Regions from separate parts of the Homo sapiens genome. Here regions 2 and 3 are each linked to region 1. The links come from fine-mapping of genetic effects on gene expression. A gene starts in region 1. Each other region holds a variant in brackets. All regions are shown on one strand. Distances are from middle to middle. Region 1 holds the start of VGLL4 (vestigial like family member 4). Region 2 overlaps ATG7 (autophagy related 7). Region 3 overlaps TSEN2 (tRNA splicing endonuclease subunit 2).

The links.
Region 2: its variant is fine-mapped to the expression of VGLL4 in whole blood (TOPMed, PIP 0.98).
Region 3: its variant is fine-mapped to the expression of VGLL4 in caudate (GTEx, PIP above 0.99).

The regions. Positions count from the first base shown.
Region 1 is chr3:11,640,653-11,648,835 of GRCh38, reverse strand. It overlaps VGLL4 (vestigial like family member 4), which reads left to right and starts at 4,921. Exons shown (of 5, transcript NM_001128219.3): 1 at 4,921-5,399. The coding sequence starts at 5,318. RefSeq lists enhancers at 4,698-4,777, 5,968-6,337.
Region 2 is chr3:11,549,799-11,557,981 of GRCh38, reverse strand. ATG7 (autophagy related 7) reads right to left here. Exons shown (of 21, transcript NM_001349232.2): 21 at 317-3,171. The coding sequence ends at 3,139. VGLL4 (vestigial like family member 4) reads left to right here. Exons shown (of 5, transcript NM_001128219.3): 5 at 1-1,913. Among named protein-coding and RNA genes, the nearest start is that of VGLL4, 90 kb to the left of the region's middle. The variant A/G (reference allele first, on the strand shown) is at 3,154.
Region 3 is chr3:12,485,537-12,493,719 of GRCh38, reverse strand. It overlaps TSEN2 (tRNA splicing endonuclease subunit 2), which reads right to left. Exons shown (of 12, transcript NM_025265.4): 2 at 3,731-3,936; 3 at 1,503-1,584. The coding sequence starts at 3,919. Among named protein-coding and RNA genes, the nearest start is that of TSEN2, 5.1 kb to the right of the region's middle. The variant C/T (reference allele first, on the strand shown) is at 4,194.

The DNA.
Region 1 (8,183 bases):
GCTGGAAAATCACTTAAAATTTATATTTCTTTGATTATTAGTAAGGTTGAATAGTTTTTCAAAAATGTGTTGGCCATTTGTTTCTCATGCTCTTAAAAAATGTTATTCAGATCAAGTGGTTTTTCAATTTTTTCCTTTGTTCTTTCTATTTTTAAATGTTCTTTGAATACCAAGAACATTTATCCTTCACTGTAATATATGACACAAATATATTCTTCAGTTTTGTATTTTGCCTTTACTTGGTTTTGGTGTTTTTAGATGTATAAAAGCATAAAATCTGTATTCTCAATCAAATTCTACATCTTCCTTGGTGGCTTCTGTCTTTGATTAAAAATTTTATTTCTGGCTTAGCAAATGTTTTCCTATTCCACATCAGATAGTCTGAACATATCCTTATAGTTTTGTAAGTTTTTGCAGCAAAAACCTTACTTTAAAAGCATCTAAATAATCTTTAAAACATTTGGGATTTATTTTGATGTACAGTATAAGGCAAAGTGCTATCTGGATTCTTTTCTCAGTAATGTTTGTTTTGTAATCCACTTCTTCCCCATTGGCCTGGATTTCTGATTCCTATATCCACAGTATCTGTCTGGTCCTACCTAGTCTCTACCCAGTAACACTCCAAAATATATTCTTTGCTTTATGTTTTAAATATTTGATAGATCAAACTTATTCATTCGTAGAAAAAGAACTAGCTTTTCCCATCTCATTTGTGTGTGTGGATAAAATTTAGACCCATCTTTCCAATTCCCTACAAAACTATCCTGTTGCTACTTTAATTATGAATATATTATCCTATGAATGAATCTGAGAAGGATTGATATTTTCTAGTATTTTTTTTTTTTTATGGATGAGCTGATTGTACCCTGAAGTACAATCAGAATCTACATGGTGTTTCTTAAAGGCAAGGACCTGTGGTCTCCAAGAGATGTTGACAGCCACCTAATGACATCGAGTAAGATAATCCAGAGTGTGCTGGAAGTAGGGATGGGGAAATGAAGAATCTGCCGTTTAGATGTTTACTGATTTTATTCAGCTGGTATTTATTGATGGCCTACCATGCGCCAGGCTTCTGCCAGACTTCTGCCAGACTGACCTCGAAAAGGTGAGGAAGGCATAGTCCTTGCTCCGAAGATCTAGGCTAGGAAAGAAGCACATATAAGGTATGGGTTGAGCGTCCTAATCCAAAAATCTGAAATGAAAAATGCTCCAAAATCTGAACAGTGTTGAGTGCTGACACAACATTCAGGTGAAAATGCTCATATTGGAGCATTTCAGATTTCAGACTTTAAAATTAGAGATGCTCAACTGGTAAGTATAATGCAACTATTCCAAAATCCAAGAAGGTCCGAAATCCAAAACACTTCTGGTCCAAGTATTTTGGATAAGGACTACTTACCCTGTAAAAGGATAGCTTGGCGTAGGGTGTGAGGAGATGGTAGGATGGGATCGTAGGGAGATTTCACAGGACAAGAGGGGCTTTCTGACAAGTCTCAAGGAAGAGTGGATGTTTGCTGAGTAGACAGGTTGGGAAAGAAGAGACGTCCTGCACACCGAGAAGCATACTGATGTGCTTTGTGGAATAACTCACTGCAGGTCATCCAGTGTGCTTGAAACTAAGGTGAAAGTTGTCAGGAGCTGGGATGGAAAGGCCTAGAGCCGGTCCAGGAGGCGCTCCCAGCCTGCAGAGGCGGGCTGTTGTAGCTGGCCCCTCTGGAGCACAAGCTTCTCTGTGAAACCAGGTTTGTTTCATTTTTCCCCAAGACTTTGTTGCAGACTGATAGTTTATAAAATGTAATGCAGCCCTATAACTAGAAATACGAAAACTACAGCCCTCAAATTTCTTTAATATTAAGATTTGAGAGACATAAAATTAGTCTATCGAATTGCTATAAAAGTTTTAAATGTTCATTCTCCGTTTCTGTATCTAGCTTTTGGGGACTAGGAACACCTGGTGCTCGAACCCCTCTGGATCACACTTGGGTAGCACCGTGCTAGCCTCCCGGATCAGCGGGAAAGACGTGGTGGCTGTGGCTGGGAATGTTACAATAGTCAAGGTAGACCTGTGAGACGGTGTCCACGAAAATGGTTGCCACCCGGAGGCTGAGAACTGCTGTTCTAAGTGATGCTGAGTCCCTTAAGGGACGTTACCAAATATTTTATTCATTTTCTACAATGGTATTGTTTGAATCATTTGCTTAAATTACTATTAAAAAAATTCTTCATGTCAAAATAAGTGAATAAAATGAAATATCTTAAGGCAGGGTTTTTTTTTTTTTCCTCCCTAGATGAAAGCAATGGTTCTCAACCTTGACTGCATATTGGAATCACCTGGGACTTTAGAAGCTACTGCTGCTGGTTCCCACCTCAGATGAGTTGGGGATGCAACCTCAGCAGCAAGATTTTTAAAAGCTCCCCCCTGGTTCTAATGTGCAGCCACCTCTCTTCCATGTGGGACAATGATGGATAAAGTTTTCTGATTGAGAATTTATGTAAAAACGTAGCACAGTAAGAGTACTCCAAAACTATCAGTTAAATTTAAATCTGATACCTGATATTGTTTGTTTTCAGTGCAATGATCTCATGTATACTGGATGTTACGAGTTTTGAGTTTTCTTCAACCCTCCCCACCAAATACCATTAAGTATTTTAATTACAATTGATAGGATACATATCTTTCACTATAGCTTATTACATGTAATATAGTGTCAATAAATATTCTTATAAATGAAAGCTTGTGAAATCTTGATTCCCCTATTACTTACTTCCCCTGATGTCACCCCAGTGATTACTGTTGCAGCAATGACGGCAACAGTATTTAGTATTTAGATGTCATATAGTTTTTTTGTTTTGTTTTGTTTTTTGAGACGGAGTCTTGTTCTGTCACCCAGGCTGGAGTGCAGTGGCACAATCTTGGCTCACTGCAGCCTCTGCCTCCCGTGTTCAAACAATTCTCCTGCCTCAGCCTCCCTAGTAGCTGGGATTACAGACACATGCCACTATGCCCGGCTAATTTTTGTATTTTTAGTAGAGACAGGGTTTCACCATGTTGGCCAGACTGTTCTCAAACTCCTGACCTCAAGTGATCCGCCCGTCTCAGTCTCCCAGAGTGCTGGGATTACACGCGTGAGCCACCGCATCCGGACTCCCAAGTAAGATTTCATTAGAACACCTTGCCATGAGTGTGCCTAATAAACCCAATGCAACTATTGCTGGATTTTTTTTTTTTTTTGAGACGGAGTCTCGCTCTGTCGCCCAGGCCGGACTGCGGACTGCAGACTGCAGTGGCGCAATCTTGGCTCACTGCAAGCTCCGCTTCCCGGGTTCACGCCATTCTCCTGCCTCAGCCTCCCGAGTAGCTGGGACTACAGGCGCCCGCCACCGCGCCCGGCTAATTTTCTGTATTTTTAGTAGAGACGGGGTTTCACCGTGTTAGCCAGGATGGTCTCGATCTCCTGACCTCATGATCCACCCGCCTCGGCCTCCCAAAGTGCTGGGATTACAGGCGTGAGCCACCGCGCCTGGCCTATTGCTGGATTTTTAACATACAACTCCTTCAAATTATTTATTCAAATATTATTTTGGAATATTAAAAATATATTTTTAGAATAGTAATTCAAATGTTTAGTTTTTGTTTTTTTTTTTTCTATTTTGTTAACACGTTCTTGATGTGCTGAAAACTGAACATTCAGTGGTTCACTCGTTCAGTAAACAGTTTTTGGGCACCTGAACTTGGTTGTGCTAGGCACTGGGTAATCAAAGTTTAAGCCCCAAGTTCTTCCAATAGCAAATAGTACAGCTGCATGCCACTAGCTTCTTACACACAGGTGGGTGACATACATGCCAAATGAAAATAATTTTACCCTTTCCCTCTATAATTTCAAGTACACTTTTAATTTTTGATATTATAGCCCTATTTGCTTAAACACTCTTCCATCTCTTCTCCTCTCCTTGTCTCCTTTTTTTCTTTTCTTTTTTTTTTTTTTTTTTGAGACAAAGTCTCACTCTGTTGCCCAGGCTGGAGTGCAGTGTCACGATCTTGGCTCACTGCATCCTCCTCCTCTCAGGTTCAAGCAATTCTCCCACCTCAGCCTCCTGAGTAGCTGGGACTACAGGCGTGCGCTACCACACCAGGCTAATTTATGTATTTTTAGTAGAGATGGGGTTTCACCATGCTGGCCAGGCTGGTCTTGAACTCTTGACCTCAAGTGATCCGCCTGCTTCGACTAGGATTACAGGTGTGAGCCACTACACCCGGCCCCCTCGTTTTTTTAAATAAAATTATAACATTAGGTGGGAAAAAACACTTTAAAAGTAGTTCTGTCAACTATTTTGGGGGCTGTGGGCCAGTCATTTAATCCATCTGAACCTGTTTCCTCTGCTGTGAAAGGGTGATACCCTCCTTGCCCTGTCCATCTCAGTTGTTATGGGGATTATGGAAGAAGCTATATGTAACATTAACATCAGAAATTTAAATATCCAGTTAAAGTGTAAATGGATATTATAAAACAATCTTTAAAAGAAACAAAGACACTATATATATATATATGGCTTATGCATCACTAGCACTTTGGGTTTCCGAAACCCCAACATGAAGTTTCACGAAAGTTGCATTCCATGGGAGTTTGCTTCCATGATGGATTTTTTACTTTGTACTTAGCTCCTGAAAAAGAAACTTCCTGGGTTTTCTTTTTTCCTCCTACGGTTTTGCAGCGGCTTGGCTGCTTCCTGTCAAGAGCCACTCTGCCAAGGCCCCGTCTCTAGAGTCTCTCCCCCTCCCCTTTCTCTTTCTTTCCAACACTTGCTACATTGAGAGGCTGATCCTGTGCAGAAGCCCTCCCTGCCTCGGCAGCGCGGCGCAGTGAGCATGCTCGGCCTCCTGCGGGAAGAGGAAGCGGCGGCATAGGAGTCATGCCAAGCATAGCCCTCATGTCAGCGCTGCCGGCTTGCAGCGGGCTGTGAGAGGGGCCGGCGCCGCTTTGTCCTAGGAAACGGGCTGCGCGTTTCTCTTTTTCACTCTTTTCCATTTCCAGGAAGGACTTGTAAGGACTTCTGAAACGCTGTTTTCATACTCGATCGGGGATACAGTACATACACCGTCTACCAGTAAGCCCTTGAAGGGTTTCGTGTGAGCTCGATTTTTTTGTGCCTGATTTTTTTTTTTTTAACTTTTGCATACTTTGTTTTGATAGTCTGAGGCTGGGCCTCTGCCTTTGTGAAGTTGAAGAGCCAGGAGCTACTCAGCAACAATTGATTTTTGAAACTTAACTCTTTTGGGGCAAAAGCAAAGAGCTGGTTTTCTTTGCTAGCCCAATAAATGCTATTTATGAAGATGGACCTGTTGAACTATCAGTACTTGGACAAGATGAACAACAATATCGGCATTCTGTGCTACGAAGGTAGATGTCCCGTTGTAGAATTACTGCCCGTTGCTCGTCCCGGCCACTCCTCCTCAGTGTGCTGGGTGCCTGCCTTCTAAGCGCCCGCTGTCCTCCTCCGGGGTGTAGGGCACTTGAAAGGCCGGCGTTTCTTAGGTTCGGTTCGGCACCGAGTGTGTTCGGATCTCAGGCTGCGGGGGGCGGTGGAGGGGGCTGGACGGGGAGGCAGTGAAGTAGAAACCCTTCAAAGTTTGCTCGTTGCTTGCAACGTACTCGCGCCTCACATTTTTAACTCTTTAAAATGTATGTATTTTTGATTTCCGTTAATATTGTCTTTAGGGGAAGGACTTGTAGGACGCCGGTAAAAGTTGAGCCTCTTTGGGGGAGGGGCTGGTAAGGATTGCACCGTCTACTGTACCCTGCTGTGGGCCACGGCGCCCTGCAGCTCACGGAGGGGGAGCCAAAGTTACAGCGAGTTTTTGTGCTCGCGAGTGAGCGTCCCAAACAGCGGAGAATGTCCCTCTCCCGCGTGGGGCCGGAAGGGCACCGTGTCAGCGAGCACAGGCGGGCTCTTTGTCTCGCTGGCGCTTCCTGTGCAGCCCGGGGAGCGCTGACACTGGGGGGTGTTCCTCGCGCTCCGCTCCCTGTGGGAGCGATTACACAACACCCCGACCCCCAGCCTGCCCTGAAAAAGAGAGAGCCGCGCCGAACTGTTATTTATTACCTCCTACTGCCCGCGAGGTGCTTCCCCCACTGTCTTGTATTTCCAACTGTCTCTGGTAGCAGTCAGAGAAAAATCTATTTCTTAAGCCCTCGGACATCCTCTACGTGCGATTTGAAAAAGTGGCAATGGCCCTGGGTCTGCCGCCGAGGGCATCTCCGGGGGAGTTCGGCCTGGCAGGAAGAGTGTTTTCTGTTGTAACCACACACACATCCGGGACTCTTCTCTTTCTCATTCAGCAGGAGCAGTTTCCATTTTTTCTCCAATAATACACGGGACATTTCTCTTGAAAAAGAAAACAGTTACAAAAACTTGGGAGGGTGATTCACTTGTATTTTTTTAATCTAAAAACTTCAGGCCTGTTTCCTAATCAGTTGAAAACTCACCCTTTCAAGAGTATTTTTCCCCTTCAAGGAAAAAAAACAACAACAACCCTCATTCACGTTGTTTTTTAAAACTCTATGGATGAGGATCTCATATTTAACGTTTTTTAAAAAGAGTATTTGTTTTTCTTTACTCCTACTAGTTCCTGCTATGAGAATTTTCGTGAATTTCTTTCTTTGCATCTGATGTGTTAAGTAACATCTTGCTTCTGAACTCACTTAAAAAAGGCAGCCGACTTTAGAAAGCCGTAAGCAGCCATTGCTGGGCTTGTTTCCCGTGACATTCACACATTGTAGTCAGGGTTTTGTTTTTCTTGTTTTTTTTTTTTTTAACCATCCCCGCTTCCCCCAACAAGAAAGAAAAACTTCTGAGGCAATTTCTGTTGTATTGTCTTTGCCAACAAGTAATACGATATTTTAAAAACAAAACATAATGGCCTAAGAGAGAAATATAAGATTGTTAGGAAATTGATACCAGATTAGTTTTTCCTGTCTCCGATTGGTGAGGACCAACTTACGGACAGCGAGCCCAGGTCGAGTTGTTGTGTAGCATGCAACACCCAGGAAACTAGAGTGCTCTGCTCTGCTCTTCTCTCTCGGTATTTGGGAGGAAGAAACTTTGATTTTGAAGATTGAGTAGCTATATGGGATAATGGGCTGAAGTCTGTTTGGTTTAAACATCTGCTCCTATTTTCCTTATTATGAGAGTTAACATTATTTTAACACCAGAATAAATACAGAGGAAATGAAGGAAAGCACAGCAAAATTTGAGTGGTGTTTATAGTGAATTGTTGATGTCCTAGTGGTTTTCTCAGTGTAAACACTGCACACATCTGGTCTGAACTCCAGAGGGTGTTTTGAAGATGGGCATAAATCACACACGGGATTTTTTTGTAGGAAAAGTTGGAAAGGTTATGGTTCTTTAAAATCCAACACTTGGACTTGGAGAATATTCGTTTTAAACATATCAGCTCCCCAGCATTCCAGGGAAGTTGTTTGGAAAATGGAATGTACTGTTGGTAGGCAACATTTGATTTCATTTAGGGCACAGTCAAGTTTCATGCCCCTTAAGAATAAGGGACAAATTAATTTTATGACATTTTAGTTTTAAAAATTAAGATGCGGATGGTTAATTATTCTTACCAGCTAAATTATACCATATTCCTTAGTTGTATGAGACATAGCTCTACTCTAAAATAAACCATGTGTCTGGTCTTTTTTTTTTTTTTTTTTTTGGTGATGAAGTCTCGCTCTTGTCCCCCAGGCTGGAGTGCAATGGCGCGATCTTGGCTCACTGCAACCTCTGCCTCCCGGGTTCAAGCCATTCTCCTGCCACAGCCTCCTGAGTAGCTGGGATTACAGGTGCCTGCCACCATGCCCGGCCCATTTTTGTATTTTTAATAGAGATGGGTTTCACCATGTTGGGCAGGCTGGTTTCAAACTCCTGACCTCAGGTGATCCACCCACCTCAGCCTCCCAAAGTGCTGGGATTACAGGCATGAGCCACCGCACTCAGCCTGTACTGTCTTTCTTAAACCTCTCTTGTGACTTAATACGCAAATCGATCTTTTTAGCCGTTTACCTTGTAGCATACAAGGTCTTCCTTCCTGACTGACTCCATATTGCTTAGATGTGGACTCCCTCCTTGGTAACTGCTTCCTGGCTCCTGCCCTCCACCATAGTTGTCTGCAAGAATAACTG
Region 2 (8,183 bases), 91 kb after region 1:
ACATTTCTGACCATTTGTGTGTTTGTTGTTGTTACTGTTTTTGTTTTTTTTAATGTAGACAATACAGCTTTGGAAGGGGAAGTCTCATACAGGTTATAGGTCTTTCTCTCTCTAGATTTCAGGTGCTTGCAACTGGACTGCAGACTCTACCAATCACGGGCATTTTATCTTCTCTGAACACTGCAGTTTGTTAGACTAGAGCTGAGGTTGGAGGATTCCATAGTGCTTTAAACGTGATGCATGTTTTAATGGAGAAAAAATAGCTGGTTTCTATTAATTATATAGACAGTAAACAAAAACCTTAATACTTACTATCTTCTTTTCAGAATTAGTTTATTTTTGTCAGTTACAGTCCTAGATATACTTACTGCTGGTACAGTTGTACTCTAAGATTGGTATTTGATATTCACTTTACTCACAAGTAGTGCGGGAGGCCAGCTCCTGGCAGGCCCTCGCGATGAGCAGTGGGTCAGCTGCGGTGTGGGATGCTGGAGTTTGGCTGCAGGCTGACATCATTTATTTTTGCATCCCTGTCTGCTTTGTTACAAGCTCCCAGGGGAGGTGGGGTTTGTGTCTTCCAACTTCCCTACATGCAGAAACTGCTCCCTTTGAACTCTCTTGGCTGAACAGCAGATTACTGACAGACAATCTGTGATATGGTGTTTTATACGCTTCCTCGTACGCTGGGGCCAAGGCAGTATACATTCCTCTGACTTTATACTGTTATTACTGCATTTATTATTTGCTATATTAATAGCTACTAACTAGAAATTAGATGAAGCAAGCATGACAGACACAGCTGTGGAGGTCACAGCTGCTCCTTTTTGGTCAATGAGCGTTTCTATCCCCTCCCCCTGGGGTGTGCTGTGTCCCACCTGGCCCACCAGAGGCTCACGACGATGGCACCTGACCAGGTGACGTGGGCGTGGTCACCTCACCTGCAAGGCTTTGTGGACTCTGCACACCGTATGACCCCCGGTTTTACAGTTTTTAGCTGTTGAATTTTGGAAATTGGCACTGGGTGAAAAGGTCGGAGGACTGGCTCTTGTAGTCACAGAGTGGCTGCAGGCCTTTGAAAAGTGGAGGAAAGAAAAGCCCTTCTCCTTGCCCCGCACACATTTCACTCCCACTGTACTGGGCTTCCAAGCTTTGGCATTCAGGCCCCTATATTTTCTGTAGGAAAAATCGTTGAGAACACTTTTCTATATGGGTGATTTTGAGACCATCGTTACGCTGTGCGTAAAGAATGTACAGAGAAATTTGTAGGTATTTTTTGAAGAACATTAATTTGTTAATGATATGTAGCTATTTAATTTTTCCCTTTCCTATTGTAATCATTCATTTTTTTTGTTGTTCGGAAAAAAAAAGTTGATCTTTTTTTTTGTCGTAGATTTGTCTGTAAAAGTGCAGGAACAGTTATTCTATGAGAACACTGCATCTGCATTCATAGCCACGAGTTTGTTATTGCTACAGGCTACTGAGCGTCGTAACAGGAAAACCACCCACAGCTGACCGGCTCGGTGGAGGACACTCCTGGGACAGGTCTCTTTGTCAGTGAACAAGGGCGTCACTCTGGGAGGGGTCGGCGGTGCTGGCGGCCGGGTCCCTGGTGCACTGACCTATCTGGGATAGGCAGTACCCTGGAGGGGGGCCTGGGGCAGAGGAGGCAGCAGAAAACCAAACATTTCACTGAGAAAGCCCCCTCCCTGCTCTAAGAAGGGGCTCCGTGAAGTTCTTCCCAGAGCCGCGCTGCCTGCAGTGCGCTCTGACCTTCTCTTCATGTGTGTAAATCTGTAATATACCATTCTCTGTGGCCTGTTTTTCCTGGAAGAAGAAAAAAAAAGGTTTGGCAGGCCATCTTTTTTTGTACTTAAAAGTAGCCTTAAGAACAATAATAAAGTGCTCTTAAACCACATAGTGTACGTGTGCAGTTTCAGCGCCAGGCTGGGTGGGCGGACTCGGGCCCTGCACCTGTGCCGGCTGTGTCCCCATGAAGCTCCCATGAGCTGAACGACAGCCACTGGAACTTGGACTGGCTACTTTGGGAGAAGCGAAGCCTCATTTGAAATCTACCCTACTAAATCCTACTGTTGTAAGGGTCAGCTCGACTCAATTTTCACTTTGATTCTGGGCCTAAGACAAAAGCTGAAAGAATAAAATAGCAGGAAAGACGATGCCCTCTACACGGGGGCAGGGTGGTCACAGGTACCTAGGCCATGGCCTCTCCTGGGTTGGGGCCTCACAGCTGCACACACCCAGAATAAAGAGGAAAACCAGCTCTTGCCTGAGTTACCCATGGTAGAGCCGTCTGACCCCTCCCTCGGCTGGGGCAGGAAGGCAGCCCAGGCTCGGCCTTTCTGGGCCTGGCCTGCTCATAAGGGCAGGGAGGAGCCCCATCCAGGCAGCTGCCAGGATCTGCCCCTGGGCTCTTCCCCCCAGCTCAAGGCAGCAGCAGAAACTCCTCTCCCTCAAGCAGGCAGGCAGGCACAGATGCTATGCCCACAGTGGAGGACAGGCTGGGAGGCAGAAAGCCATGTCTGAGCAGCTCACTCAGTCCTTGGTGGAAATCTGGCGTCACTGGGTCATGTGGGCCCTTTAGTCTCGTACCCAGCTCGGCTCTCCTCCTCCTCCCGCTCCACCAGGGCCAGGGTGCAGTGCGCTCACGGGGTCCCACCCTCACCCATGCCCAGGGCCCCCACAGGAGGAGCCTGCGGTGCGGTGGGCAGCACATTCCGGGGATGAGGGTGCCACCTCCCGCAGTGGCTCTGGGCAGGAGCTGGTTGCTCATTTCCCCATTTGGTCTGTGTTGGGTCACCCCCTCAGGGCCAAGGGGAAAGGATCCTGGGGGATGGCTATCAGTCACTGTGACAAGAAATAAAAACTGCATGGAGGACCAAGTCCCAGGTCAATAGCAAGGCCAAGGCCAAGGTTATTATTTAGCTCTGAACTGGTGGTATCTTGAATCCCGAGCAACGCCGAACACTGGCCACTCCTGGGCAGCAGAGGGGGGAATCCCAGACCTCGGGGTATGGAGGAGGGGCCCAGAATCACCAGGCCTGGGGTCAGCAGTCCTGCTCTGGCGATGGAGAGCTCCTCAGCAGGCGGCCGGGGAGAAGTCAGCCCCACAGCGGGGCCATCTCAGATGGTCTCATC[A/G]TCGCTCATGTCCCAGATCTGCATGGAGAAGGGGAGAGGCTCAGCCGAGATGTCCCACTGCCCGGTGGGGGGCACACAGATGCTTCAAAACCGCAGCAGTCATGGCAGCTCCCACCTGCAGAACCACTCCCTTGTTTCTGAGGGACTGTCACCCCATTTCTGTACAAGGAAACCAAATCTCAGACTTGCCAAGGCGTCACTAGTGTGTGAACCACCTGGTGGAACCAACAGGGGAGGGCTGGGATTTGCACTGGGGAATGTGCCTCTGCTCACCTCCTGCATGTCCACCTCGGGGGACCGTCCCTGACCCAGCCAGCCTCTGCTCATCCTGGCTTCTGCAGCACTCACCCCCACCCCAAGCCAGCTTGTTCTCCTTGTGGTCCACCTGCCCTCTGGAAGGCAAGCTCCCTGAGGGCAGGAATTCTGGCATGGGCACGTGCTGCCTTGGGAGGCTGCACCCTGGGCACCTGCTCCATGTTCCCTCTAACTGTAGTCCAGCTGCCCACACTCCCAACTCACACTAGAGAGCTGGCTCAAGAGCAAGCCCTCCCCACCAGCCAGGGTGGAGGTGGCCTGGAGCAAAGACAGTGGAGACAGCCAGATCCTGCCACAGTCCCTCAATGCGTGTCCTCCGAGTCTGAGCCTCGCAGTGAACCTGGGGAGCAGGAGGCCCCAACGTGGCTGTGAGGAGAACTGAGGGACCCAGCAAGAGCCACCCTGGCCGACACCCCCATGGGCCCAGGCCCATTCATTCCCTGCAGTCCTTGGTGTCAGCCCCCAGGGAGAGAGCCCAAGGCCAGCACAGCAGGTCCCAGGGCCCCTGGCACCCAGGGCTCCCTGGAGGGCCAGTCCCTGAACCTACGCCTTCAGACTTCCAAATTCCTAGAATTGGTTGCAAAAGGCCACCTCAGTGCTAGCAGAGCTGAGAGAAGGAACAGCATGTTTACACGAGGCTGGCCCGGGGAGATGGGAGGCCTGGCCAAGGTAAATATCAACACCAGCTTGGCTTTCAAAGTCGAGGATGTCGAAAATAAATAGAAGGAAATTTCCTCTCTCCTGAGGACCCAGCTCCCAGGCTGAGGGGAGGCAGCCTTCTCACTGCCCCTGTCTCCCGAGGCCAAACTATCTGAGCTCTTGGGAGGGGACTGCCAAGCGAGGTCTAGATGCCAGCCCAGCCAGGCTGTGGATGGGCCGGTCTGCGGTCCAGTGACCAGGTGTCCCTATCTCTGGGTCAGGTCCCCACCGAGCTCATCCTCAGTGCGGCTGGAAACTCCCCCAGGGTGGGACTGAGCAGTGCAGGGCAGGGGAGCTGTGTTTCTAACAAAGGTTGCATTTAGGAGCTCCTGGATCTGATCTCTGGGTTCTGATGGTCCGAGTGGAAGAAACTGAGCCCCTGGAGGGTTTGCCAGCACAATCCATCCATTCTTTCACTCTCCCATTCAACGAACACACATTCATGTAGCCAGCTCTGTGCCACACGCTGTGTAGACCTGCTGCGAATACTCCCTCTTTCACTCCTCACATCTACCTGTGAGGTGACCTCACATCTACCTGTGAGGTGAAGATGGAAACAAGCCCAGAGAGGTAAGGCAATTGGCCTGAGATCACACAGCAAGCAAGCTTCAGTGCTGGGAACCAGGGGTGTGTGGAAAAGGGCGGGGCGGGCTGCCTGGAGGAAGGGGCCGAGGTGGGAGGTGATGGGGCAAGATGGAGAATGAAAAGGGTGAGCATTGTGGGCCGTGTCCTCCGGGACCTCCTGCCCAGCCTCCTTGGAGGGCTGCCAGCCTGGGCAGGGCAGGGTCAGTACCAAACAGCAGTGCCCTCTGCAAATGGGTGGTTGGGGTTGTTCTGTTCATAAGAGGACTCGGGCCTGGGCCGGGGCTGGGCTTTATAGGAAAGTAGAAACTTTCAGGGAGGTGTTACCCATTTTATCATCCATTTTACTGGGTTTTTAGCTATGGGGAAGAGGCATAGGTGCTCAGCCACACTGGGACTGGGTGGCCTGGGACTGGCCCTGGAAGGTGCCTGGCTGACCCCTTGCTCCTGGACAGATTGAGCCACTCGAGGGGATGCGGCTGCTGGCAGTGCCTGAGCTGTGCAGGGGATCCTGCGAGACACCCAGAAGACTTATTGTGCGGGGATTATTATTTTGTAAAATGCATTTTACAAAACCACTCAGGGATTTTCCAGAGCGAATCTCTGGGGCAGGGACGGGCTCTCCACTGGCTTCGTCCCATTGGCTGGGCTCAGAGGGCAGCAGCCATCTTCATTTGAAACCTCAAGAAATAACCAGAACAGGGACTCCTGGGGATAGGGACAGGGACTGGAGTGGGACTGGGGGCTGGGATCTGCAGGCTCTACTGTGTCCTCACCGCAGCTGTGTCCTTGGCAGTGCAACTGGTGTGGAGAAGGGGCACAGTGAATGTCCTCTTAGTGAAGATCATAGTAAACTGGCACATTTTAAAAAATATCAATACTCAGTGCCGACAAGGGTATGGCAAAACACTGCCACAAGAGAAGTATAAATTGGTACCATATTTTTTAAAAGATTTGGCAATATGTAATACAAACCTTTAAAAACATTCAACCCTAAGGAAAAATGATCTCTTTGTAGGTAATATCAAAGCACACCTGGAAACCCCAATAAAATAAGTGCTAAGATATCCTTAGAATACAAATGAAAAAGTATTTAGTAAGAGCAAGATATAAAATTGACAACAACCAATTATAACCCACCACATGCAGTGCAAACAATGTTTAGTTCAAAACAGAATGAAAGAGGCCGGGCGTGGTGGCGCACGCCTGTAATCCCAGCACTTCGGGAGGCCAAGGCGGGTGGATCACTTGAGGTCAGGAGTTCGAGACCAGCCTGGCCAACATGGTGAAACCCCGTCTCTACTAAAAATCCAAAAATTAGCCAGGCGTGGTGGTGGGCACCTGTAGTCCCAGCTACTTGGGAGGCTGAGGCAGGAGAATGGCTTGAACTCAGGAGGTAGAAGTTGTAGTGAGCTGAGATCGCACCACTATACTCCAGCCTGGGCGACAGGGTGAGACCCTGCCTCGAGAAAAAAAAAAGAAAAGAAAAGAACCCATTATATTGGCTGGGCACAGCGGCTCGTGCCTGTAATCCCAGCACTTTGGGAGGCTGAGGCGAGTGGACTGCTTGAGGCCAGGAGTTTGAGACCAGCCTGGACAATAGAGCAAGACCCTCTCTCTATAAAAATAAAAACTTTAAAAAAAATTATAAAAGCAGTGAAAAAGCTAAACACATGGGAATAAACCTAACATCGGATGTACAGAATCCATATGAAGCCTCTAAAACAGCTGCGACAGTCCTAGAAGAATCTCTCCTGGAAAGACGTAAACTGGAGTAGATAGAGCCACACCCCTTGTTTCTGCATAGGACGATTCAACATCCATAAAGATGTCAGCTTTCTCAAAGTGAATACATTAACAAAGTCTCAATTTTCAAAGTTAACAAATGTTTTCTGGAGCCGGGCGAGCTGGTTCTAGGCTATGTGGAAAAACAGGAAGCAGACACACCCAGGAAACCCTCCGAACAGAAGAGCGGTGAGAAGCCCCCACCATGGGCCGAGGGAGACGCCATGAAACCCCCGAGGAGGAGAGGGTGCGTCAGCACGGAACACTCAGACGGCCCGCAGGACACGACGAGTACAGAAACGAGAAGACCATGTCCAAGAACATGTGGAAATCAAGGATTTTAATGATAATGGCCTGGGGAGTGCCATCTCGGCTCATTACGAAAAGATAGACTTTTTAAAAAACTGATATGAAGAGAAGTAGAGAGTCACTTGGAAAAAGATAAAATTGATTCCATGCCTTACCCCGCATGTTAGAATCAACTCCAAATGGGATAAAAATCCAAACGTTAGAGAAAATGAAACCATAAGAATACTAGATACAAACACGGGTAAGCTCATTATAGCCTGGGAGTAGGGAAGGCCTATGATCCCAAATCCATAAGCAATAAAAAAATGGATACACTGGACTCTGCAAAAACACATGCATGCAATATGCACGGGAAAACAGTCAAAAAGGCAAACTGAGAGAAAACATAACAACATACCATAAAGGGCTCATCTCGGTAATAGACAAAGAGCTCTTAGAAATCAAGAAGAGAGGCCAGGCATGCCTATAATCCCAGCACTTTGGGAGGCTGAGGCGGGAGGATCACTTGAGCCCAGGAGTTCAAGACCAGCCTGGGCAACATAAGGAGACCCTTTCTCTACAATAATTTTTTAAAAATGAGCCAGGCATAGTGGCATGTGTCTGTAGTCCCAGCAACTCAGGAGATAGGAGGATGGTGTGAGCTTGGGAGGTAGAGGCCGCAGTGAGCTGTGACTGCACCACTGCACTCCAGCCTGGGCAACAGAGAGTGAGACCCTGTCTCAAAGAAATAAATAAAATTCAAGAAGAGAAAGACCAATAGACCAAATTTTTAAAAAGTGGACAAAGACACGGCCAGTTCTCAGAAAAAATAAGCAAATGGCCCTTAAACAGAAAAAAAAAGATGCACAGCCCTACTCATAATAAAGGAAATGCAAAGGTTTCTTAAGACACAAAAAGTACTAACCAGAAAAAAAAATGGGTTTGCATTTCACAAGAATTAAAATTTCTGATCTTGGAAGGATACCACTGAGAAAATGAAAAGGCAAGTTGCAGACTAGGAGAAAATATCTCTATATTAAAAGAACTTGTATTTAGAAAATAAAGAGAACTCTTACAACTTAATAATAAAGAGACAAAAACTTGATTTTTGGGGAAAAGATTGGAAGAGAAACTTCACCAAAGAGGAAATATAATGGCAAATAAGAAAAGACGTGCAGTTTGCAGTCCTCAGGGAAATGCAAATCAAAACCATAAAGAGACAGTGCACCCCACCTCCTCGGAGAGCTGAAGCTAAAGGCCAGCGATGCCCGATGTCTGTGAGGATGTGGGGCAGGAAGGGCCCACACACTGCTCCTAGTGGGGATGGAAACTGGCAAAACCACTTTGGAGGAAGGTCTAGT
Region 3 (8,183 bases), 840 kb before region 1:
AGTCTTGCTCTGTCGCCCAGGCTGGAGTGCAGTGGTGCAATCTCGGCTCACTGCAACCTCTGCCTCTCGGGTTCAAGTGATTCTCCTGCCTCAGCCTCCTGAGTAGCTGGGATTACAGGTGCACAGCACCATGCCCGGCTAATTTTTGTATTTTTAGTAGAGATGGGGTTTCACCATCTTGGTCAGGCTAGTCTCGAACTCCTGACCTCATGATCTGCCCGCCTCGGCCTCCCAAAGTGCTGGGATTACAGGCGTGAGCTACCGCGCCTGGCCGACTATTATTTTTTTAAACAAGTGTTGGCAAGGATGTAGAGAAATTGGAACCTTTGGTGCATTGCTGGTGGGAATGTACAATGATGCGGTCAATGTGGAAAATAGTTTAGCTAGTTCTTAAAATGTTAAACAGACAATTATCATATGACCCATTAATTCTACTCCTGGGTATATATCCAAAACAACTAAAAATAGACTCAGATACGTGTATGCAAATATTCACAACAGTATTATTCAGAAAAGCCAAAATACAGAAACAATCTAAGTGTCCATCAGCAGATGAGCTAAAGGCACTATGTCCAAACAATGGAATATTATTCCACTATAAAACGGAATGAAGTTCTGATAGACACTATGGCAGGGACAAACCTCGAAAATATGCTAAGTGAAAGCAACAGACACAAAAGGGCAAATATTGTATGATTGTTATTTATATATGAAATATCTATAATAGGTAAATTCATAGACAGAAAACATATAAAGGTTACCAGGGACTGAGGAAAGAGAGGAATGGGGGAAAAGAAAACAAAGTAAATGCATAGGTAATTTTGCTAGACATTGCCAAATTCACCTCCATGAGGGTGGTACCACAAGCACCCCACCAGCAATGCAAGAGAAGGTCTGTTTCTGAAGTCCTCACCAATGCAGTATATTGTCAGACTTTTGGATTTCTGCCTGATTGTTGACATGTTATCTCAGTGCAGTTTTAATCTGTATATTTTCTTACAATAAAACCTTTAAAAGATCCTTTCTAATTATGTTTTAACATGCTGGTATTGGTTCTTAAGTAATTACCATGAGAATTCCTTAGATAAATATTCTAAAACATTTATAAATTAAAGAGAATCAGCAAGGGAGAACCACACACATACATGTCATGGCTATTACAAATTCTAATTCTGGAAACAAAATTTTAAAAATTTTGCATAGTGCCACAGGTGAGCAGGTACTTAACTACCAGTACCTGCCATAGGCATAGTACTCTGCTAAGCAAACACTTAACAACAGAAAAGCCCAATTAACACTTGATAATTCTAGAAATTAAACACACTGTCACCCAATCATAACCCTTTTGCTTTGATTAGAATTATTCTAGCTAACTTTGGCAGTAAAACTGCCAGTGTACATGTTACTTCTCTAGAATTTTACTATATAGCCTGAGATATAAGATCAAAAACAAAGGAAAATGATTAATTTGTCAAAAGAACTGAATGATACAACAACTTTACCTTTCCATTTAGCAACCAGTTTAGGATCTGAAATTGTGAAGCTTGGACGGCTTCTTGAAAGAATACCTTTTCCAAAATAACCCTTCCAGGAAGAGAGAAAATGAAGTTAGTTCATGCTTAGTTACCAGTTTTTTAGCTGAGGTAGAATATACAGTAATCCCTCAGTATCCACAGGGGGCTGGTTCCAGGACCTCTGGTGGATACCAAAATCGGCAGATGGTCGAGTCCCTGATATAAAATGGTGCAGTATTTATATATAGTCTACGTAGGCCCTCCCATATACTTTAAGTCATCTCTAGGCTACTTATAATACCTAATGCAATGCAAATGCTATGTAAATAGTTGTTATATTGTTTAATATAAGAAAATAAAGTCCCCGTTTGGTACACATGCAATTTTTCTCCCAAAATATCTTCAATCCAAGGTTGGGTGAATCCACGGAAGTGGAACCCATGATATGGAGGGCCGACTGTACCCATCTGAGTTAACAAGAGGTTCGCCCCACTTTTCATGTCTTTACATTTTCCCTCTGATTATCTAATGATGACTAAGGATGTTCTTAGCGTAACACCTTTCTAATCGCTTCAAGAGTACTAGTAAGTTTTTAGCACACCTCATTTATCCCATAACTAATGCTTTCAGTCTAGGTCTGATAAGCCGAGGGCAGGCAGAGGCAGAGTTTCTTCTCTACATATGGTTCGGGAACACAGTGTGCCTGAAGGCAGGAGCCATGCTGCCCACTAGGTCCAAAAAAACCTCTTGGATTCTTTTGTACTCCAGAATTGAAGTATTCCTCTCATTCCTGCTGATTCCAAAAACAACATGTATTTTTCCCCTTTTCATTACAAAATATTTAAACACACAGAAAATTGAAAGAATAAAACAAACACCCCTTTCTCCATTTAGATTAACAATCAGAATAAAGAGGCCAGGTATGGTGGCTCACACCTGTAATCCCGGCACTTTGGGAGGCCGAGGTGGGCAGATCACTTGAGGTCAGGGGTTCAAGACCAGCCTGGCCAACATGGTGAAACCCTGTCTCTACCAAAAAATACAAAAATTAGCCAGGCATGGTGGCATGCGCCTGTAGTCCCAACTACTCGGGAGGCTGAGGTGGTAGAATCACTTGAACCTGGGAGGTAGAGGTTGCAGTGAGCTGAGATCATGCCACTGCACCCTAGTCTGGGTGACAGGGTAAGACTCTGTCACAAAAAACAAACAAAAAAAACACCCAGCAACAACAAAAACCAAGAATAAATAATGCATACAGCACTTTATAAAGCCTCTTGCTTAATGTTATATACTGTAAATGAAGGCCTCCCTGGTGAGCTGCCCTTGGCCTACTGAGACTCCTGCCTCACCATGGCCAGTGCCACCCACTCTTCTATCAAGTGTCTAGAGAAGGCACATTTATGGAGACAAGACGCCATTCCGTGGCTGCCTTGGGCCGGGAGTGGGAGCAGGGATTAAGTGTGATGGGCACAAGGGAACTCTGTGGTGATGGGAATGTTCTAAAACTGGACTGTGGTGAGAGTTGTGCAACTCTATAAATTTATGACAATCACTGAATTGTATACTTACAATGGGAGGACTTTATAGTTGTAAATTATAACTCAATAAAGCTGTTTTTTAAAAATGCCCACAGCAATGAACAGATTATGGAAAATTTTTTTTAAAGAACTACCAGTCTTCATTCAACTTGATCAATGCTGGAAAACAGTAAAAACTAGAACTTGTCCTCATCTGAGAAGAGGTCCCCAACCAGGAGGCAGCAGATAAGGAGCTCCATGCCAAAGCCCCATCTGATCCGTGCCTGAGTAGGGACACTATGCCACGCTGTGGCTACCTCTGGGAACGGGATGGGAGTGAGTGGGGAATTTTCACTTTTTTACCCATTACATTTCTGTAAATTACTTTTTTTGTTCCTTTAACAAACATGCATTGCTTTTACAACTAAAGACAAAAAAAATAGTCAATCCATTGAACCTACTTCATCACTGAAATAAAGGTTTGTGGGCAGGGGTGCTCCATCTGTCATTCTATTACCCTAACATATGGCTTTTGGGCACTAATTCAAATTGTACTTTTCCTACAACTGGACCAAACCGCAAGGAAAGAATACACATTGTTCATGGTTGGTGTGGGGGTATGGCTGGGATGGGGAGAAGGAAAGGACTGCTTGCTCAGGGTTGTCTGAAAGTAATCTTACCAAGGCTGCCTGCACTTACTTTCCCATAGAGCTGCTCAATGTCCTCCGCATTCCTCACAATCACATTGTTGTTAATCATTTCAGCACGGAATATCTTGAATTCTTTCAGAGGACCATGGTCCTGACCAAAAGGGATTGGCAATGGAGACTCGTAAGTCTCATACACTCTTCTTTTCCTCTTTGGGGCATGGAAAACTGCTTCTGCCATTTTTCAGAGGAGGTATTCTTTAAAGAGTAGACAACAAACAGAAAGAAACAGACAATCAATAACTACCTTGATCCAAAATGTGAGTACATCTGTACCTAGGCTCAGAAAACTTAGTGGTCTGTGGGAAGAAATAGAGTATTTATAAAGCAATAAACTAAAAGCAGTAAGAACAGTTTGTGTGAGCAATGTAAATCATATTGACCTAGAATACTGCAATTAATCCCCACAATAAACCCCAGGAAATGAGTGGTAATCTTTCTACTCCAGCTGACAA[C/T]GCTGAGACCTAGTGACATGCCCAAAGCTGCAATGTTAGGTCTCCTGAGAGCAAGCACAACAGGATTTCTGTCTACCAGGAGTGCTTCCATTTCACTCACCCAACAGACATTTACTACCAGGAATTCCTAATAATCATAGGTGCTGGGGAGACAAAGACAAAACTGAGACCCTGTCCTCAACAAATTAAATCTTGCAGGCACTTCATTTTCCAAGAGGATCTTACAATACACACTAAACATTGGGTCAATCAGCTCCCAATTTTTAAAGTACATTAATAAATAATAATGACAGCAGCAGTTATTTAAGGGTCGATTATATACTACCAAATGCTACTGGCTTCAAGCAGGGACTCTAAAGCCAGACTATCAGCATCAGAATCAACTTTACCACTTCCTAGCAGTGTGATTTTGGGCAAAAGTCACTGACTCTCTCTGTGATTTAGTTTCCTCACCTGCAAAATCAAGATAAGAACGACTCTATCTTACAGTTAAGATCCATAAAGTGCTTAGAACAGTACCTGGCACATAGCGTGTACCATTCATGTATCAGCTATAATTAGTATTACAGGGTGAGCAGTAGCAACACCATTTTACAAATAGGAAACAGATTCAGGTTAGAGAGATTTGTAGACGACCCCGAGTGTGGTGGCATCGGGTGACCCAGGTCTGTTGAACTCCCAAGCCCATGCCCTCTCTCTAGATTCTGCTGAAAGCACAGGCAGGGTCTATCTACTTTTGTCTGATGACTCTTTCTCAAAATCAGACGGTGAAGGGTTATTGAGCAGTAACGGAATTACCCACTGTGCACCCAGCACCATGAGGGAGAACAGAAAGCCAAAGCCAGTACGTGTCCCTCTGGGGCCATACATTGGATCCAAGGAGACAAAACAAGTATATAACATAGCTGGAAGCACAGAAAGCAGGTTGGAGCTAACGGAACTGGCTGTTATCCACTAATGTCTAAAGGAGGGAAGTAAATGTGAACATATTGTGTGATGCAGACACAGAGATACAGTAGATGCACTTAACCTAGGAAAACGTAACCATATACATGGGAAAACAATGTAAATGGTGCAAGACATTCCACTCGAGGAGCAGCTGTCCTGGAATGAGATGGGAAACTTGAATCTGCTGCTCCCCCAGTACTAGGTCTAGACTTGATTTCAACTGAGAGCTTACCTGGTGCTTGAAGATACAGTGCGGCCAAATCATACACACGTTTAACCTACATGACTCCGAATCCTCACAAGGGAAAAAATAAGACTAATTACTTAGGTGGCTCCTGCACTCAGTACTTGCATCCCATTGGCAAGGGATGCCATCAAGCCTGAAACAGTCAAGAAGGTGGCCAAAACTGAGGGAGGGGAAGGTGAGTGGCTTTAAGAGTGTCATGACCATTAAGAAAAGGCTTATCCAACGTGTGATGATATCAGTATCCAACTTCTCAAGGAAGAAGCTGAGGAATTATATGAGGACACAGAAAAACACAGACTAAAGAGGAGTTAGAGGAAATGATACATCAATTACAAAGATAACCATGAAAAAGAAGAATCGGGAAGTTGGAACCTTCCTAGAATTGCCATTGTTCTAAGCAGCAACATGCTAGATTAATTTCTAAATAAGGTTCCTTGAAGGAATTACATACTGAGCATTACTTTGTACATTTTATATTTATGCATGCATCTTGCTGTATAGTGTTTATAACAAAACCACGTCTACTGCATGCTCACAGGAAACCTAAGAGATTTTCTTAAGAGCATATTTAGACTAGGCTTTACCTTGCTTGCTGACTTATCCCTCAGCCCAAGTACTAAATTATCACATTTAGTACTCAATTGGAGAGACAATAATTTATTCTAAAACTGAAAATAAACACTGCTTTTTGGGGGCAGGATGTTGGTCTCTAGTAAGGCACTTTTTGAAAGACTTCCAGGAATGGTTTGGACTTTTATGGGATTTTTCACTTTTATAACCTCTGCTCAGCAGCTGACTTATATACATTACATTCGGAATTTTAAAAAAATGAAAAAAGATTTAATGGCCACCTTCAAGAAGTTCTAATAAATTCTCTCAACAAATAAGAGTTGTATTTTAGTCTGCCTCATTTGTTCAGCGTTTTTCCCTCTCAGACTGCTGTCACATCTAAAAAAGGCAAGATTTAGCTGTGACACTTGATCGAAAGAACTCTGTACTCCAACCCAGGTGTGTGGGATGGAAGGGTCCCTGCGACAAAACACCCCTCATAATCCAAGTTCTTGTGTTACTCTTGCTCATGTGGCTGCACACCCCTCAGGAATTTGGCTCGCAGTAGGCCTTCCAGACATGCAAAGCCGCCATTATTATTGTGTGACCTTGCACAACCCACTTTCTCTAAGCCCAGTTTCATCTTCAAATCGAACAGGACTGGAGGAGTCTGGCAGTTCCTCAAAATGTCAAACACATAGTTACGACATGATCCAGCAACTCCACCCCTAGGTATAGACCTAAGAGAAATGAAAACATATGTTCATGGAAAAATTTGTATGTGAATGTTCACAACAGTATTATTCATAATAGCATCAAAGTGGAAGCCATCCAAATGTCCATCAATAGTTGACCAGATCAACAAAATGTGGTCTATCCATATAATCAAATACTTAGCCATAGAAAAGGAATGAAGTTCGGATACATTCTTCAACACCTGAAAGCATTATGCTAAAAGAAGTCAGACACAAAAGACCACGAGACAATTAAGATAAAGTTTCCGGAATAGACAAATCCATAGAGACAGATTACCAGTTGCCAGAGACAGGGAAAAGTGGGAAATGGGGGGGCGACTGCTAATAAGACAGGAGGTTTATTTTGGAGGGTGACGAAAATGTTTTAAAATTAGATTGTAGTGATGGTAATGGTTACATAACTCCGCGAATACGAAGACCACTGACTCGTACATTTCAGAAGGGTGACTTTTACAGAATTATATGGTATCTCAATAAAGCTATTTTAAAAAATTCAGAAGTAAAGACATTCCCCAGGCCATGTCCTGCAAGAATGACTTCACAGATACCAGCGTGAAGCTTCTAGAAAAGATAGAAAGAAACCCTCAGGGAAGGTAGAGCTCACTTCCCCAGGGGGAAAAATTCAAGAGGACAAATCAGATGATCTCTAGTTTCATGGAAGAGTCCTCCTGTGCTGAACTCGAAAGGCAAAGCAGAGGAGAAAAGACTGCATTTACCATTCCCCATATCTGCAATGGATATTCAAGAAGGTTCTTTAGTGTCGCGGCAGAACAGCATGCTGTAAGAGGTGGGATGTGAGTAAAATAAGAAGAGGAAACTGTCATAGGTAGGTACCAGATGCCAGAGGCACTCACTGCATGTGCTGCACATGTGGGTACTATAGTCATCCCTTGGTATCCACAGAAGGACTGGTTCCAGGACTCACCCCCTACCAAAATCCGCAGCTCAAGTCCCTTAAATAAAATGTAGTATTTGCATGTAACTTATGCCCATCCTCCCATCTACTTTAAGTCTTCTCTAGATTACTTAGAATACCTAATACAATGTAAATACTAAATAATTGTTATATATATATATTTTTAAATTTCTTTTTCCAAATATTTTTGATGCAACATTGGTTGAATCCACAGATTCGGAACCTGATAGCGAGAGCTGACTGTACTATCCTCATTCCACAGATATGAAAGAAGAGCGGTGCCTGAGGTGCACAAAAACATATAGGAAAGACTGGGTCAGTTGTCAAGAGGTTTGGGATGCAAAGGTTGGTTTGGAATTGGAGTCACTGCAGGTTATTTAGAATGATGATTGAAAAATGCAGATTAAGAAAATTAAACCTGGGAGTGGTACATCACACAGTGGCCCTCAAGCTTACCTACCCTTAACTCCTCATGCCCAGGCCTCACCTGCAATCAATTACATCAGAATTTCCTGGGTGGACCCAGCTGATTTTAACATATAGCTAACCACTGGTAACAGCAAGGTCTATTCAAA